Linked DNA regions of Homo sapiens. The protein of the gene in region 2 purifies or fractionates together with the protein of the main gene of each other region. This does not show direct contact. Each region holds a gene or a part of one and is shown on either strand. Other genes may lie near its edges.

Region 1 (3,326 bases), on a different chromosome or scaffold from region 2:
CCCTAACATTGCCTTGAGCCCAGAGGCAGTTGTCAAAGAATGAGGACTCATGGGAAGCCTCCTGGAGGCTCGCTGACTTGGGAGCTCAAGTAGGGTAGCTGTGCTTCCTTCATCTCCCCTCCAGCAGGGATGGCACCCAGGGGGCCAGGGCAGGAACTCAGGTTTCCTCAGCCCACAAATCCCCTGGAAAAAACATGACAGGCAGGCCGCATGTGCTTTTGTCAGGTTCCTCCCTGAACCCACCCATGAGCTGCAGGCCTACCTCTCCCTCAGCAGAATCCTGGAGCTACCATTCTCAGCAAGCCTGAGCTCCCTTAGTGCCTGGGAGCTGTCAGTCTGGGAGGCTTCATGGAGGAAGCGAGACTTGGGTCAGGGAGGGCAGTGACTAAGGGGCACTTTGGAAGGGCCCAGTAAGGGCTGGGGTGCGGAGACCCAGGGGTGGTGGCATCAGAGCTGAGCCTCAAAGGACCCAGAAGCCTGGGATGTTTAAAACCTGCCCATTATGGGGTCTAGCGAACAGCTTCTTTTATTCTTGTTTGAAAGTATTTTTCTGCTTACAAAAGTAACTTATACTTGATCTAAAAAAAAAAAAAAAAAGAAAAGAAATCACACAATGTTAAAAGCAAAGATTCACCCATTTGGCCCCAGAAGCCCTGCGGACAGAGAAGAGCCTATGGCTGGGTTGGTGGCCTGGGAGGATGCGCCTGTTGTCAAGGTTACAGGGACTTGCCGGGCGCCACAGAGCAGGGGGCAAAGTTCTCCCCAGCAGCCTCAGGAGGCCCCGCTGCTAATCCACTGTCTTCTGTTCTGTCTGTGCCTGCGAGAGAAGAGGGTGGATCAGGCTGGTGTCAATGGAGATGGGAGGGCTCAGCTTGGCTGTTGGGGGTCTACCAGGCCTCACTCTCACCCCAACCAGTGGATGCTCCAGGGCCAGAAGCCTCTGCCTGACTGAGAAGTGACTGCCACTCAGGGACGCTGCTCCCAAGGCCACCAGGCCAGGGCCACAAAAGCTGCTAAAGTCATTTCCAGGAAACTTGAGGCCAAGTTTGTGCTGAGCACTGGGAAGCCGCAGCCATCGCCTCTGCTGGACCTGGGGTGGGGATGGAAGGATGGAGGAGTTGGCAGATGGGGGTGGTCGATGCCTGAGGGTGATTGCCTGCGGGACCCCTGGCGCCTGATGGAGCCCTGCTCTGCCTTTCATCTGGCGAAGATGGCTGTGCTCCAATTCTCACAAAGGCACCACGGCCCCAGGCCTAGATGGATCCCAGCAGTGAGCAGGAGTCTCAAAGGGGCTGGGAGGACCTTGAGATGGTCTCATTCCACAGAGCTCAGGTGTAACAGATCCTGAGCCAGACTCCAACCCCCTCTGCCCTCTGCAGGGACCTCCTGGTGGCCTCAGAGTGGCGACTTCGCTCCTCTGAGCCCTGCCTCCCACAGGCCATGGGGACTGCATCCTCTGCCCAAGGTTGGCAGGAGAAGCCAGGGGGACAGGCAGAGGCTCTCAGAGCAGGACTGGATGGTGGGGGCTTCGCAGTAAGAGCCAGGCACTCCCACCGGCTCTGGGAGGACGGGGTCCCTCTGAGTCCCAGAGCACTGCTCACACCAGGCCTGAGACTCCAGCAGAGGGATGGAGGCCGAGGGGTCCATTAGGTTCCTTGAAAGCTCCAAGCCTGTGGCTGCGGACACCACCATCTCAGGCATTCTGGGGTCTCAGCCCCAGGGAGGCTGTGGGGCTGTGACCCTCTGTGACCTCAGGCCACTCACCCCTCAATTTCCATCAGTGAGGCAGGGTCCCTGCACGGCCAGCAAACTGAAGGAACCTTTTCTCACAATGGGCTGCCAGGCTGAGTGCCCTGGCTGACCCCAGGGGACCACCTGTTCTGGCTGACCCCAGGGGACCACCTGTTCAGAGGTCACAAGCCAAGGCCACCTGCTACGCCTCTTCTTCTCAGGGCACGGCAGAGCCCACTCCCAGTTGGGAAGAAACCCCAACTCACCTTCTTCCCACCCACTGGGCAGCCCCCTGCCCCATCTCCCTGGAACTTCCAGTTCAAAAGGTGTACCCAGCCCATTTCCTCTGCTGCCTAGGGCCCTGCCCCCACCGCTGCCTGCCCTGGTAGAGCCCAGAGGCAGGACCTGCTGTGGGGCCAGGAGGGGACCTGTCCTCCTGCAGGGGACAGCAGGGCATGGCCTGGGCCACCTCAGGGAGAGCTGGGTGCAGGGAAAGGGGCAGCCCTGCTCTCATCCCATCTCTGCTACCATGGCCCACCTGACTATGTTCCCCAAGTCTAGCTGAAAGGTCTAGTACACAGCAGGGGCAGAGCCAAGGGCCCTGGGGAGTGGGAGCAGGGACTGAAGATGCTCAGTGCCTCCATCCATCCCATCACTCCCACAGCAAAGCACAGGGAATGAACCTGCCCCATCACCTCCAGCCAGCCCGCAGCAGCTAGGGCCACACCCCCAGCCCCACTCTCCCATGGGACCTGTGAGCCCTGAGCTGTATCTCCCCGGAGGCTTGGTGGGGGGTGATTGTGCAGAGGAGGTAGGGAGAGCAGGGGCAGTCCCGGAGAGCCAGGCTGAGGTCACTGCCTTAGTCTGCTGGGAGTCTCATCCTGCGTGACTCGAGTCTCCAGAGCCCAGCCTGCACACAGCTGCTGTTCAGTGGATGTTACTAAGTGACTGAACGGTGAGTGAGACCAAAGAAGCTTTCTAGAACATATGGAAAGGTGACCCATCAAGCCCCCGGTCTTAGAGACCCTCATCGAACAGCTGCGAGCCAAGACCTTGAAGCTGACGGCAGCTGCCTGTGGGCCCCGCCGCACCCTCAGACCCTCCCTTGTGAAGGAGCCAGTAGGCAGCGCATTCCAGAGTGGGGAACAGACACAGAGAGGCAAGGCCGCTCAGAGGCAGGGTTGGAGGTCGGCGGATGCCCAGGCCTGTGCCCTAACCCCTGTGCCACTGCTCTCCACACGTGGTCAAAGTCAGGGAACAAGGACCCGCATGCCAGGGAGAAGCGCCTGATGGAGCCAGCGCGGCTGTGGGGGCCACCCTGGGAGGTGCCGAGCTGTCCTGGGGGGCCGCTGTGGAGCCTCACCTGGGTCCTGCCTGCTCCGTTTCTGCTCAGGCTCCTGAGGGGCTGCCTCAATGGCCCGCTGGGCCTCGGGGTGGGTCTGGAGGAGGGCCTTGGCAAGGGTGGCGGGGCCGGGCACCCCCAGGGACATGACACAGTGCACACCCTTGCGCTTGGCCCCCGCCACCTTGGTGCTGTCTTTGGAGGCTGTGAGCAGGACCAGTTTGGAGAACTTTCTGGGCTTCCTGGGGGCTGC
Region 2 (3,500 bases):
ATAATCCCAGCACTTTGGCACTTTGGGAGGCTGAGGTGGGAGGATCACATGAGCCCAGCCTGGGCAACATAGGGAGACCCCTATCTTTACAAAATAAAATATAAAATATAAAACCTAGTTGGGCATGGCAGCATACACCTGTAGTCCCAGGTGCTCAGGAGACTGAGACAGGAGGATCACTTGGGCCTGGGAGGTCGAGGCTGCAATGAGCCAAGATTATGCCACTGCATTCCAGCCTGGGTGACAGGGCAAGACCCTGTCTTAAAAAAAAAAAAAAAAGAAAGAGACAAACGTAGAAAGAGTACCAAATTTGGAGCCAATCAGATCAGACCTGGGTTCAAATTGAGTTTCTGTCACTTACTTCCTTTGTGGCCCTGGAGATGCCCTTCAACCTCCTTGAACCTTAGTTTCCTCATCTGTAAAATGGGGATGATAGTACTCACCCTTAAAATTACAGAACTTGGCATAATAGCGGGTGCTTGATAAATGGTAGCTATAATTATTAATATTATATAATACATTGTTCTCCTTTATGGTAAAGTAGGTTTTAAGACACTGATTTTTTTGTTTTGTTTTGTTTTTGGAGACAGAGTCTCACTCCGTCACCCAGGCTGGACTGCAGTGACGTGATCTTGGTTCACTGCAACCTCTGCCTCCTGAGTTCAAGCGATTCTCCTGCCTCAGCCTCCTGAGTAGCTGGGATTACAGGCACCCGCCACCATGCCTGGCTAATTTTTGTATTTTTAGTAGAGACAGGGTTTTACCAGGTTGGCCAGGCTGGTCTCAAACTCCTGACCTCAAGTAATCTGCCTGCCTCAGCCTCCCCAAATGCAGAGATTACAGGCATGAGCCACCGTGCCCGGCCTAAGACACTGTTAACACGGAGCATGCATCAAGCAGCATTTGGGATGCATCAATTTTGTGAGACTTTATACAAGTTAACAAATAAGAAGGCAAAAAAGAAGGCATATGTTAAAGTATACCATGTGTCTTGTGGTGATAATCTTATATTTTATATTCTGATAATCTCATATATAAATCTGTGACCTTGAAGTAGGTTACTTAACACCTCGATGTGTTCACCAGTAAGATGGTGTGCCACTTCCAGCTTTCCCTTAAAGGATGATTGTGACCTTGTCTAAGTGCAATCAGAATGTTAAGCAGAACAGTAAGTATTGCAATTGTTTTGCATGCCTTTTCCTTTAAAATATACTTGTTATTTTTTATATTCCATGCAGGGTGAATTTAAGGTGTCAGAGAGATACCTCACCATGGATGACTTGACAACAGCCCTGGAGGGGAACAGAGTGAGAGAGATGTTTGGCTCTGGTACAGCCTGTGTTGTTTGCCCAGTTTCTGATATACTGTACAAAGGCGAGGTACGACAAGTATTTCCTCATTTCCTATCATTTCCAATCACATTAAATTACATTTAATTTAAGTGTATGAATAAAATTGTATCTGGACCCAGACCCAAGATGCAAAAGTTTTGTCGTTGTTGTTGTTTTTCTTTATTTTAAAGAGATGGAGTCTCGCTGTGTTGCCCAGGCTGGAGTGCAGTGGCTATTCACTGGTGTGATCATAGCTCACTGCAGCCTCAAACTCCTGGGCTCACGCAATCCTTCTGCTTCAGCCTCCTGAGTTGCTGGGATTACAGGAGTGCGCCACCGCACCATGCTAGGTCTTTTTTGTTGTTGTTTTTGTTTTTTAACTTGGCACTACAAAAAAAATAACTGGGACAGTTTATCCAGATGAAACTGTATTAGCATATATCTACTATGTTTCCAGTGATTTCATGTAAGCTTAAACATGGTGGGAAGTTAGTTTTGTCCTTGGACACGTGTAAGATCTGTCTTACCTACATGTCGGGATTGGAGCTATGCCGACAGTCTTCTACTCTTCTCTCTTCCTTCCTACCAGCTCACTAGGGAAGGCTCTATAGGTAGTTACATTTCAGTTTCTGGTTAACCAAAAGTACTTCCAAACCACTGGATTAGGAATGGCAAATAGTTATGGAAAATGCATTCGAGTGGTCAATCCCTTGATTTTTTTTTACTATTAATGCTGTTATCATTAATAGTAAGTAGACCACTTTACAAGAATTATTCATTGGCAAACCTGGTGCATTTACTAAAATCTTACAAAAGGAATTTGAGGATTTGGTTGGAAGAAATGTTCTCCTCTTAGTAAATTAGTCTGATTTTATATGTGCCATACTTTTGTTTTCTTGTCAAATTGTTTTGCTTTTCACTTTATAACAAAGCTCCAATACTTATGATTAACATTGGCATCTAACTTTATAACTTAAAGGCATGTAAGTATTAGTCTTATAATGTGAACTGGCTTAAGTTATTCATATTATAGCAGATCCTTGAACAACACAGGGATTAGGGGTGTCAACCCCCATGCAGTTGAAAAATCCACATACAACTTTTTTTGTTTGTTTGTTTTTTTAAACGGGGTCTTTCTCTGTCACCTGTACTGGAGTGCAGGGGCACAATCTCGGCTCACTGCAACCTCCGCCTCCCAAGCTCAAGCGATCCTCTCACCTCAGTCTCCCAAGTAGCTGGGACCACAGGTGTGCACCACCACACCCAGCTAATTTTAGTATTTTTTGTAGAGACGGGGTTTCAAGATGTTTCACAGGCTGGTCTCAAACTCTTGAGTTCAAGTGATTCACCTGCCTTGACCTCCCAAAGTGCTGGTATTACAGGCGTGAGTCACCATGCCCGGCCCACATATAACTTTTGACTTCCCAAAAACTTAACTACTAGTAGCCTGCTGTTCACCGGAAGCCTTATCAACAACAAAAACAGTCGATTGGCACATATTTTGTATGTTATGTATGTTATATATGTATTCTTACAATAAAGTAAGTTACGAAAATCATGGGGAAGGGAAAATATATTTACTATTCATTACATGGAAGTGGATCATCATAAAGGTCTTCATCCTCATTGTCCATCATGTTGAGTAGGCTGAGGAGGAGGAGGAGGAGGAGGGATTGGTCTTGCTGTTTTAGGAGTGGCAGAGGCAGAAGAAAGTCCACGTATAAGTGAACTTGTGTAGTTCAAACCCGTGTTGTTCAAGTGTCAACCGTAAATGCAAACTCCACTGGTTTTCAAATTTTACTTTAGAGTTATTTTCCCTCAGCTGATTGGAGTTTTGCTCAACTCCTCTGACTTTAATAATGGCTGCTTCATTTGTTGAGGTTTTAGAACTTGCTTTTAAGGGATTGCTCTTGACATAATTGCATCAACAGATAGACTGTTTCATGGGAGAAGAATTGTTCTGTTTCATGTCAATACTTACATTGATAAGAATGCATCAAGGTAATGTGATCCATCCACTGAAGTTGTCATTAGGCCAGATTTTTTTTAAGTTGAATTATTATTTCACTTCTAGAAATAAGAAGTTTATAAAGTTTAGCATAATTTTAATGATCCAGGCTTAGGAAGCATTTACAGCCAAAAAGTAAGTATATATAATTATCATATTAT
Region 3 (3,500 bases), on a different chromosome or scaffold from region 2:
CTTAAAGGAAATGGACAAGAGAGTGGCAAGAAAGGAGGACCTAAGGAGATGGCAAATTTAAGGCCGGAAGGACGGCTCTATCAGCATGGGAAACTTACACTGCTGCATAATGGAGAACCTCTCTACATTCCAGTAACCCAGGTAGGATGCACTAGTTCTTTCCATTTTAATTTATTTTGTGGTTTATATAACTTCATCCTAGTAGAAGATAGTGCTTTGAGTAAGGAAAATTATCCAAAAAGTCTATGTTTAGGCCAGATGCGGTGGCTTACGCCTGTAATCCCAGCACTTTGGGAGGCTGAGGTGGGCAGATCACCTGAGGTCAGGAGTTCAAGATAAGTCTGGCCAACATGGTGAAACCCTGTCTCTACTAAAAGTACAAAAATTAGCTGGGCACAGTGGCGCACACCTGTAGTTCCAGCTACTGGGGAGGCTGAGGCAGGAGAATCATTTGAACCCAGCAGTGGGAGGTTGCAGTGAGCCGAGATTGCACCACTGCACTCCAGCCTGGGCAACAGAGCAAGACTCTTGTCTCAAAAGAAAAAAAAAGTGTTTATGTTTAAAGATAAAGATATAGACTGTTTAAAGAAACTAAAGGTAAGGATTTCCCAATGACATAGATAAATGTGGTCTTGATTTAATCAAGGACCTTTAAAAGATTGGACAAAGTCTATGTTTAAAGATTAAAGAAATCTAAATAAACTTTTGGGGCTTTTAGGTTTGCCATTTCTGTAATTGAGAAATGTTTTGAAGTTTAAGTAGATCACGTCATCATATATAAGGTGATTTATAAACTGAGCAGTGAATGCTCAGATGTTTAAAAAAGAAAATCCAACTGCACTTATGTATGTTTTTGTTTAACTTGTGGACAAAGACTTATGGATAGGTGCAAAAAATAAATCCTCTTTTGCAACCCAGAACTCATTGTTCAGTATGAGTTTTGATACATATAAGAAGGGATATTATGATACCTGAGACAGTTAACTGATGGGAATATTGATAGCCATAAAGGTTGGTCCCAGACCAGGCACAATGGCTCAAGCCTGCAAGCCCCACACCAAGGTGGGAGTATTGCTTGAAGCCAGGAGTTCAAGACCAGCCTGTATAAGAAAGTAACAAACACCTCATCTCCACAAAAATTTAAAAATTAGCTGAGTATTGGGGCATGTGTCTGTAGTTGCAGCTACTCAGGAAGAGGAGGCTGAGGCAAGAGTATTGAGCCCAGGAGTTGGAGGCTGCACTGAGCTTTGATGACACCACTGTACTCCAGCCTGGGTAACAAAGACAGACCCTGTCTCTTAATTAAAAAAGATTGATTCTAGGACTGTGGAAGAGATAGTTAAACAGCATGGGATATGAAGGAAATCCTCAGCAGTATTAATTTTGCATTCCAATTTCATGTTGACTTGATACCTACGATGGCTTTTTGTTTTAAAGGCTTTTATCTTGAGAACATGATGTCTGTAGTTAAAGGTATTGGCGTATTCCACACATCTGTACTATTCTTGAGTATGATCGCTTAGGGTGTCAAATTGAGAACCAGGCAGATCCACCACCTACAGTAAAAAGGACCCTAAAGTAAATTGGTTGAAGAAGTTAGATCCCAAAGATTCTTGGTGAATTTTGAAGTCTTCATCAGTATATCCATATTAAAAGGAGATGACAGAAGCCAAAATAAAAGAATTATGGGCTAACAGGACAGCTGGATTAAAATAAGCATCAGTTTCATTAAAAAGGGCTAACTTGAAGATAAATCTTTTGACTCCAGCTCTTTAGAGGATCTGAAGTGACCTTGATGGACAGTGGAAGAAATCACAACATGGAATTACTTGAACAAAAATTTATTGACTTAAAGAAAAAGAAAAAATCCAAAAATATATAGAGAGAACAAAAGTAAATATCCTTCAATTATATGATTAGCTTTTATCTGTTCAAAAATAGTTTGAAGTCATATACACCATTAGGATGTAGAACAGCAATAACTCAACAACAACAGCAGCAATAGTTGTTTTTAAGGGTTTTGTTTTGTTTTTTTTTTGTTGTTTTTTTTTTGACACAGAGTCTCTCTTTGTCACCCAGGTGGGAGTGCAGTGGCATGACTGTAGCTTACTGCAGCCTTGACCTCCTGGGATCAAGTGATCCTCCCACCGCAGCTTCTCAAGTAGCTGGAACTACAGGTGCATGCCACCATGCCTGGCTAATTTTTCGTGGTTTTTATAGAGGTGGGGTTTTGCCCTGTTGTCCAGGCTTGTCTTAAATTCCTGAACTCAAGCCATCTGCCTGCCTCAGCCTCCCAAAGTGCTAGGATTACAGACATGATCCACTGCACCCGGCCTGAAAACATTCTATTGTGAAAATTGTAATCTAGTAAAAATGAAAGAGGCTCAACGCCTGTAATCCCAACACTTTGGGAGGCCGAGGTGGGGTTGGATTGCTTGAGCCCAGGAATTCAAGACCAGCCTGGGCAACATGGTAAACCCTATTTCTACCAAAAAAAAAAAAAAAAAAATTAGCCGACTGGGGTAGCGTACACCTGTAGTCCCAGCTACTCGGGAGGCTGAGGTAGAAGAATCAATTGAGCCCGGGAGGTTAAGGCTGCAGTGAGCTATGATTGTGTCACTGTTCTCCAGCCTGGGCAACAGAGCAAGACCCTGTCTCAAAAAAATAAAAAGTGAAAGCCACCATCCACTAATTTTGACTTGCATTCCTTGAAGTAACTAACAAGTATTATTGGTTTGGGTTATATTTCTTATAACTGTTTCTCTGCATTGATGTATAATACATATATGTGTGTACATATTAATACATGGTTTTATGGATTTTTTTTTTTTTTTGGAGACAGGATCTCATTCTGTTGCATAGGCTGGAATGCAGTGGCATGATCATGGCTCACTGCAGCCTTGACTTGCTGGGCTCAAGTGATCCTCTGACCTTAGCCTCCTAGGTAGCTGGGACTACAAGTGCTCACCACCATGCCAGGCTGATTTTTTCACTTTTAAAATTTTTGTAAAGATGGAGTCTTGCTATGTTGCCCAAGCTGGTCCTAAACTCCTGACCTCAAGCAATCCTCTGTTTCGGCCTCCCAAAGTGCTGGGATTATAGGCATGAGCCACTGTGCCCAGCCTCAATTTCTTATAAACAATTGGTATTACCAACCATATAAATTTTTGTTAACATGATGGTCAAAAGTAGTATCTCAGTGTTTTAGATTGTATTTTTCTGAATTTTCATGAACCTGAGCATCTTTTAATATGTTCGTTAGCCGTCCTTTCCTGTGAATCGCCTATGATTTTTCTTTTAGGTTGCTCCCCTGTTCTTATTGATTCATATGAATTCTTCATATTTTAGATGTGAATCTACAGTTATATATATTGTATATGTTTTCTGCTAGTCATTTTAAAAACATATGTTCATGTATTTACTTAATTATTGAGTTATAACTTAATACAATAAAGTGTACAGATCTTGGCTGGGCATGGTAGCTCATGCCTGTAATCCCA
Region 4 (4,132 bases), on a different chromosome or scaffold from region 2:
ATTTTGTACCGAATACAATTCGCAAGCATTCCTGTCTTGGAGAATTTTCTTTTGGGTATCTCCTTGTTGTAAAAACTTGCTTGGAAAAAAAAAAAAGCAACTGGAGCAGGCCTCCAAAGACAGCAAAGCAGGGACCAGAGGCTCTGCGGAGAGCGCGGGAGGAGGCTGACCAAGGGGCCTCCGTTGCTGGGGGGACCTGGGCGGCTGGACGCCGGGGTCAGTACGCTGCTCGCCCCGCGCAGCCGAAAGCGGGCGTGGTGTCGCGGGGAGAGGATGCCCGGCAGCAGTGTGGCCGGCGGGCTGGGGGTACTCGCCCGGGTCAGAGACCTCAGCCCGCGCCAAGGCGCCCCACACTTTCCAGCGCAGCGGGTCGCAGCCCGGAGACGCCGGGCGTCCCCACCTCCAGCCTCCCGAGCTGCAGCGGCGCCCGCGGTTCTCCCCCGACCCGCCAGGTGGACCCGGACTGGCGCACCCTGCTTTCCGCCCGGGACCCTCCCCCGAGCCCTGGCTGCCTCCGCGCCCCGCCCCGCCCGGAGCCCGCAGCCGGCGCCCCGGATTACCTGCCCCGGAGTCACAGTCCGCAGCCCGGACGCTCCCAGGGTGGCTCCGCGGAGCCTGGAGCCACATTCCTAGGGGAGGGGTCCCCACCTAGAGGGTCGCGGATCACGTTACCCGCCCGGAGGAGGAGACCGCGGGACACAGAGTAAACAAGGGGTAAAAAGTTGCATTTGGCTCAATTTTTTTTTTTAAATCGTGCTTCGACGCTGGTGGACTCGGGGACACGGCGTCCTCCCAGTTCCCGGAGCCCAACGGCCCCGGGGCGGTTTCCCAGGGCAGAGGCACCTCTCCGGGCGGCGGGTGCGGAGCTGGTCTGCGCGGCCTCTGAAGGCGACCCCGGCCGCTCGCGGGCTTCCTGGAAGCGCGGCCGCAGGAGCAGAAACGCTCACATCCACGCGCACAAATAAATCCGCGAGCAGCTCCGCGCCGCGCCGCGGGCGGCAAGGAAACCTCGGGTTGATTCAATGCAGACGCGGGGCGTCTGCCCGGGCAGGAACGCGGCGAGGCGAGAGGACCGGGCGTGGGGGCAGGGAGGCCGGGGCAGGAGAAAGGGAGAAAACCCCAAAGCCACGTTTTAAAAATGCGGGTGAATTTTCAATGCCGTCAGCCCGGGGGAGGGGAAGGGGCCAGCTGCGGGCGCCGGGGTCGGCAGTCCACCCGGGGCAACTTTCCGGGCGGGAGGCGCGGCCGGAGGGGGCGGCGCCGGCGGCGGGAGGCGGGAGTCGGGGGCCGGGGGGAGTCACTTTAAAGGCTCTTTCTTACCCATAATGCTTTGTGGGGACGTTGACAAGTGGATCCAAGATGGCGTAGAAAGTAATGACAGGTAAGTCCTGACTTCCCCCTTCTCTGCTCCTGGGGCCGCTCCGCGAGCTCCCGGAGCTCTCCGGGGAGGGGACCCGACTCCCCTCCGGTGTCCCGGACCCCGGGCGCGGCGGCCCCGGGGCAGGCTGGGGGCCTGGGCGGCCCGCGGCTGGGCCTGGGAAGCGCGGCTCTTCGAGGCGAGGCCCGGACGCTGGGGCTGTTTACAGCTTCTTCCCCTACTTAGTCCCCTTCCCCTCCGCTGGGGCCCGCAGCGTCCTGGGCCCTGGCAGGAGAGGGGGCCTTGCACGCCTGGCCCGGGAGCCTGCGGGAGGTTTCTCCGGCCCAGAGCACTCTGGGAGGGGGACTCGAGCCTCCCGGCACGTTCCCCTCCTCCGGGTCGCGGCTGGGGGTGGGGAGCGTGCGGGCCTCCCACGCCCCGCTCGATGCCCCCCCTCAGGCCTCGGACTTCCACCGGGTGGGGTGGGGGCTGGAGCGGGGGCGTGGGGAAAAGTGGGTCAGGCGTGCGCCCCCTCCCTCCCCCGCGGAGGGCTCTCGGCCCGAGATTCACTTTCTTCCCCCCTTTCCCCGCCCCCTCCTCGGAAATGCTCTTTGGCCCACAAGCACATCAACAAAAATAAAGATAGGCTCTCTTTTCCTGGAGATTCCTTGAGAGTACTCCAGTACCCTTTTCAAGGGCTCACAGACTGCAGTCTTACCTAGGGAACTTCGATTCCTCTCCCCTAAATTATTGGAGCCTTCTGCACCCTCGCCTTTGCTGAGAAATCTTCAGACAGGGCTGGAAGCCAGGGTCCTCTGATTGTTCTTGGATCGGGATCCTCAGGTTTTGTTTGCAGTTCAAAAATTGTCATTCCTTCTCCCTCACAACTTAACACTTCTCAGGCAAATCATTAATATAATAAAAAGTGTAACTTCAGAGACAGTGGATTCCTGGAGCGGGGGAAGGAGGGAGGAGTTGTCTGTCTTGCCTAGTTTGTTCTTAATTTTGCTCTCTCTTAAACTCATATTAATGAAATTTCCTCTCCTTCATTTCTTTATGTTTTTGAAAGTAAGGTCAGTCTGTGTTGAAAAAGATGATTTTATTATGTTTTTGAGTTTTAAGAGCATTGTATAATCTATTCTTTTACCTTACTGAAAGGAAATGTTTTAAGGTCAAAAACCAGACTCATTTGCAAAGCTGCACACTGTACCATTTTTGTAACTTTTTCCATTTTAAATGTAGATGCCCTTTCACTTCAGGCTGATAAAATGTTTGCTACTGATAATGTCTGTTACTGGTGTTGTATGGAAACATCTTTTCTATTTGCCTCAGGATTTGGATGAAGTAATGGATCACTAATGAACTACAGTGCTGGTGAGATGTGTAAGGTGAGACTGCAGTTAAAAATGATTTCCTTTTTTTCCTTCTTTATTTTAATCAACTGGTAAGAGTAAGGCTGAAACTGAGTAATTTGATGGGGCCATCTTTGTTTTCCAAATGTATCACTCAGTCAGTGGGTCTATGGGCAGGGCTAGATTTAGAAAGGAAAAATATGTTGAATGTACCAATCTTTTCAGTTGCTCCAACATACTCAAACATAGTGGTACTTAACTAAGAGCCAAATGTTACTTGCAGCTATTCTTGATCAGTATCTTCACCAGGGATAATTATAGTTTGCCTATTCAAATTTTCTTGCGTAACTTTACTTGGATGTCTTAATTTTATTTGTGTTTTGGTGTCTATCACCTACTGTACGTTTAGTCCCGGTGATTATGTATATGGATTTTGTGTGTACCTGGTTTGTGGGACTCGTAAAGTATACCCTTTCCGTTAGAAAGAATTAGGCAGGTCAATCACTCCTGCTTTTATTTTCTGAAAAATGGAGTAGTACTTTTCTCTTTAATAATTATTTTGAAATAAAGATGATAGTGTTGAGATCTGTTTAGCTTATTAGGAAATAGACTAGTTTGTCATTATGTCCTGATCACACACGGTGTGTGAATTTATTCAAAGTGCTTTATTTAATCTAATTTGTAATGCTTTGGATTTAAAGGATATTATTGATACAGTGTTAGTGAATAGTTTTCTGTGCTATAGAGAGGAAGAGAAGTTTGCTACTTTTACATTTTTCACGAGTTTTCTCAACTTAAAATGTTTTACTAAGTTTTTTTTTAGAAAAATAATAAGTAATTGTGGTCGATTGGTTACTGTAGTTTTTTTTTTGTTGTTTCTCCACACATCTGGGCCTCTGGATTTTGAAATCCTCTCACAAATTTTTCGTGTCTATCACAACATCTGTTTAAGAAGAATAAGCTATCCTTTTTTTTTTTTCTAGATTGAGGCATGTAATTGACATTTTGCCTTAAAAAAATAAAAACTTAGGAAAGGAAGGTGGACATAAACCAAGATTCTTTTGTAAGTGCACATACTGCATTTTCTTGTGTTTGAAACTCAGCAGTGCTTATGTTTATTTCATATAATTTTTATTTTTGGCAGAGCAAATATGGATTTTTAAATTTATTTTTATTTTGCAGATGGAGGCATATTCCTGCCTTAGACCTCCCAATTTGAACTTTATATATGTGTGTATATATACATATATGTGTGTATATATACATATATGTGTGTATATATACATATATGTGTGTATATATACATATATGTGTGTATAGATATGTGTGTATATATGTATATATGTGTATATATGTGTGTATCTATGTATATAGATAGATAGATTTTTTTTCTTTTTTTTTTTTTTTGAGACAGAGTTTCACT

Evidence for each region. The genes of interacting proteins can lie anywhere in the genome.
Region 1: the proteins of BCAT1 (region 2) and FLYWCH2 purify together in Homo sapiens (affinity purification with mass spectrometry; 3 studies listed by BioGRID and IntAct, with this or other methods). This does not show direct contact.
Region 3: the proteins of BCAT1 (region 2) and RAB3GAP1 purify together in Homo sapiens (affinity purification with mass spectrometry; 3 studies listed by BioGRID and IntAct, with this or other methods). This does not show direct contact.
Region 4: the proteins of BCAT1 (region 2) and HELZ purify together in Homo sapiens (affinity purification with mass spectrometry; 3 studies listed by BioGRID and IntAct, with this or other methods). This does not show direct contact.

What each region holds. Positions count from the first base shown.
Region 1 is NC_000016.10:2,896,540-2,899,865, reverse strand, and holds the end of FLYWCH2 (FLYWCH family member 2), read right to left. Parts: coding exon 3,095-3,326; intron 1,091-3,094; coding exon of another isoform or gene 1,020-1,090; exon of another isoform or gene 912-1,019; intron 818-911; coding exon 717-817; 3' UTR 501-716; downstream 1-500.
Region 2 is NC_000012.12:24,830,602-24,834,101, reverse strand, and holds part of BCAT1 (branched-chain-amino-acid aminotransferase, cytosolic), read left to right. Parts: intron 1-1,238; coding exon 1,239-1,379; intron 1,380-3,312; exon of another isoform or gene 3,313-3,401; intron 3,402-3,500.
Region 3 is NC_000002.12:135,135,792-135,139,291, forward strand, and holds part of RAB3GAP1 (rab3 GTPase-activating protein catalytic subunit), read left to right. Parts: coding exon 1-141; intron 142-836; exon of another isoform or gene 837-964; intron 965-3,500. UniProt on the Homo sapiens protein: Catalytic subunit of the Rab3 GTPase-activating (Rab3GAP) complex composed of RAB3GAP1 and RAB3GAP2, which has GTPase-activating protein (GAP) activity towards various Rab3 subfamily members (RAB3A, RAB3B, RAB3C and RAB3D), RAB5A and RAB43, and guanine nucleotide exchange factor (GEF) activity towards RAB18.
Region 4 is NC_000017.11:67,242,397-67,246,528, reverse strand, and holds the start of HELZ (probable helicase with zinc finger domain), read left to right. Parts: upstream 1-1,332; 5' UTR 1,333-1,381; exon of another isoform or gene 1,382-1,753; intron 1,754-2,689; 5' UTR 2,690-2,745; intron 2,746-4,132. UniProt on the Homo sapiens protein: May act as a helicase that plays a role in RNA metabolism in multiple tissues and organs within the developing embryo.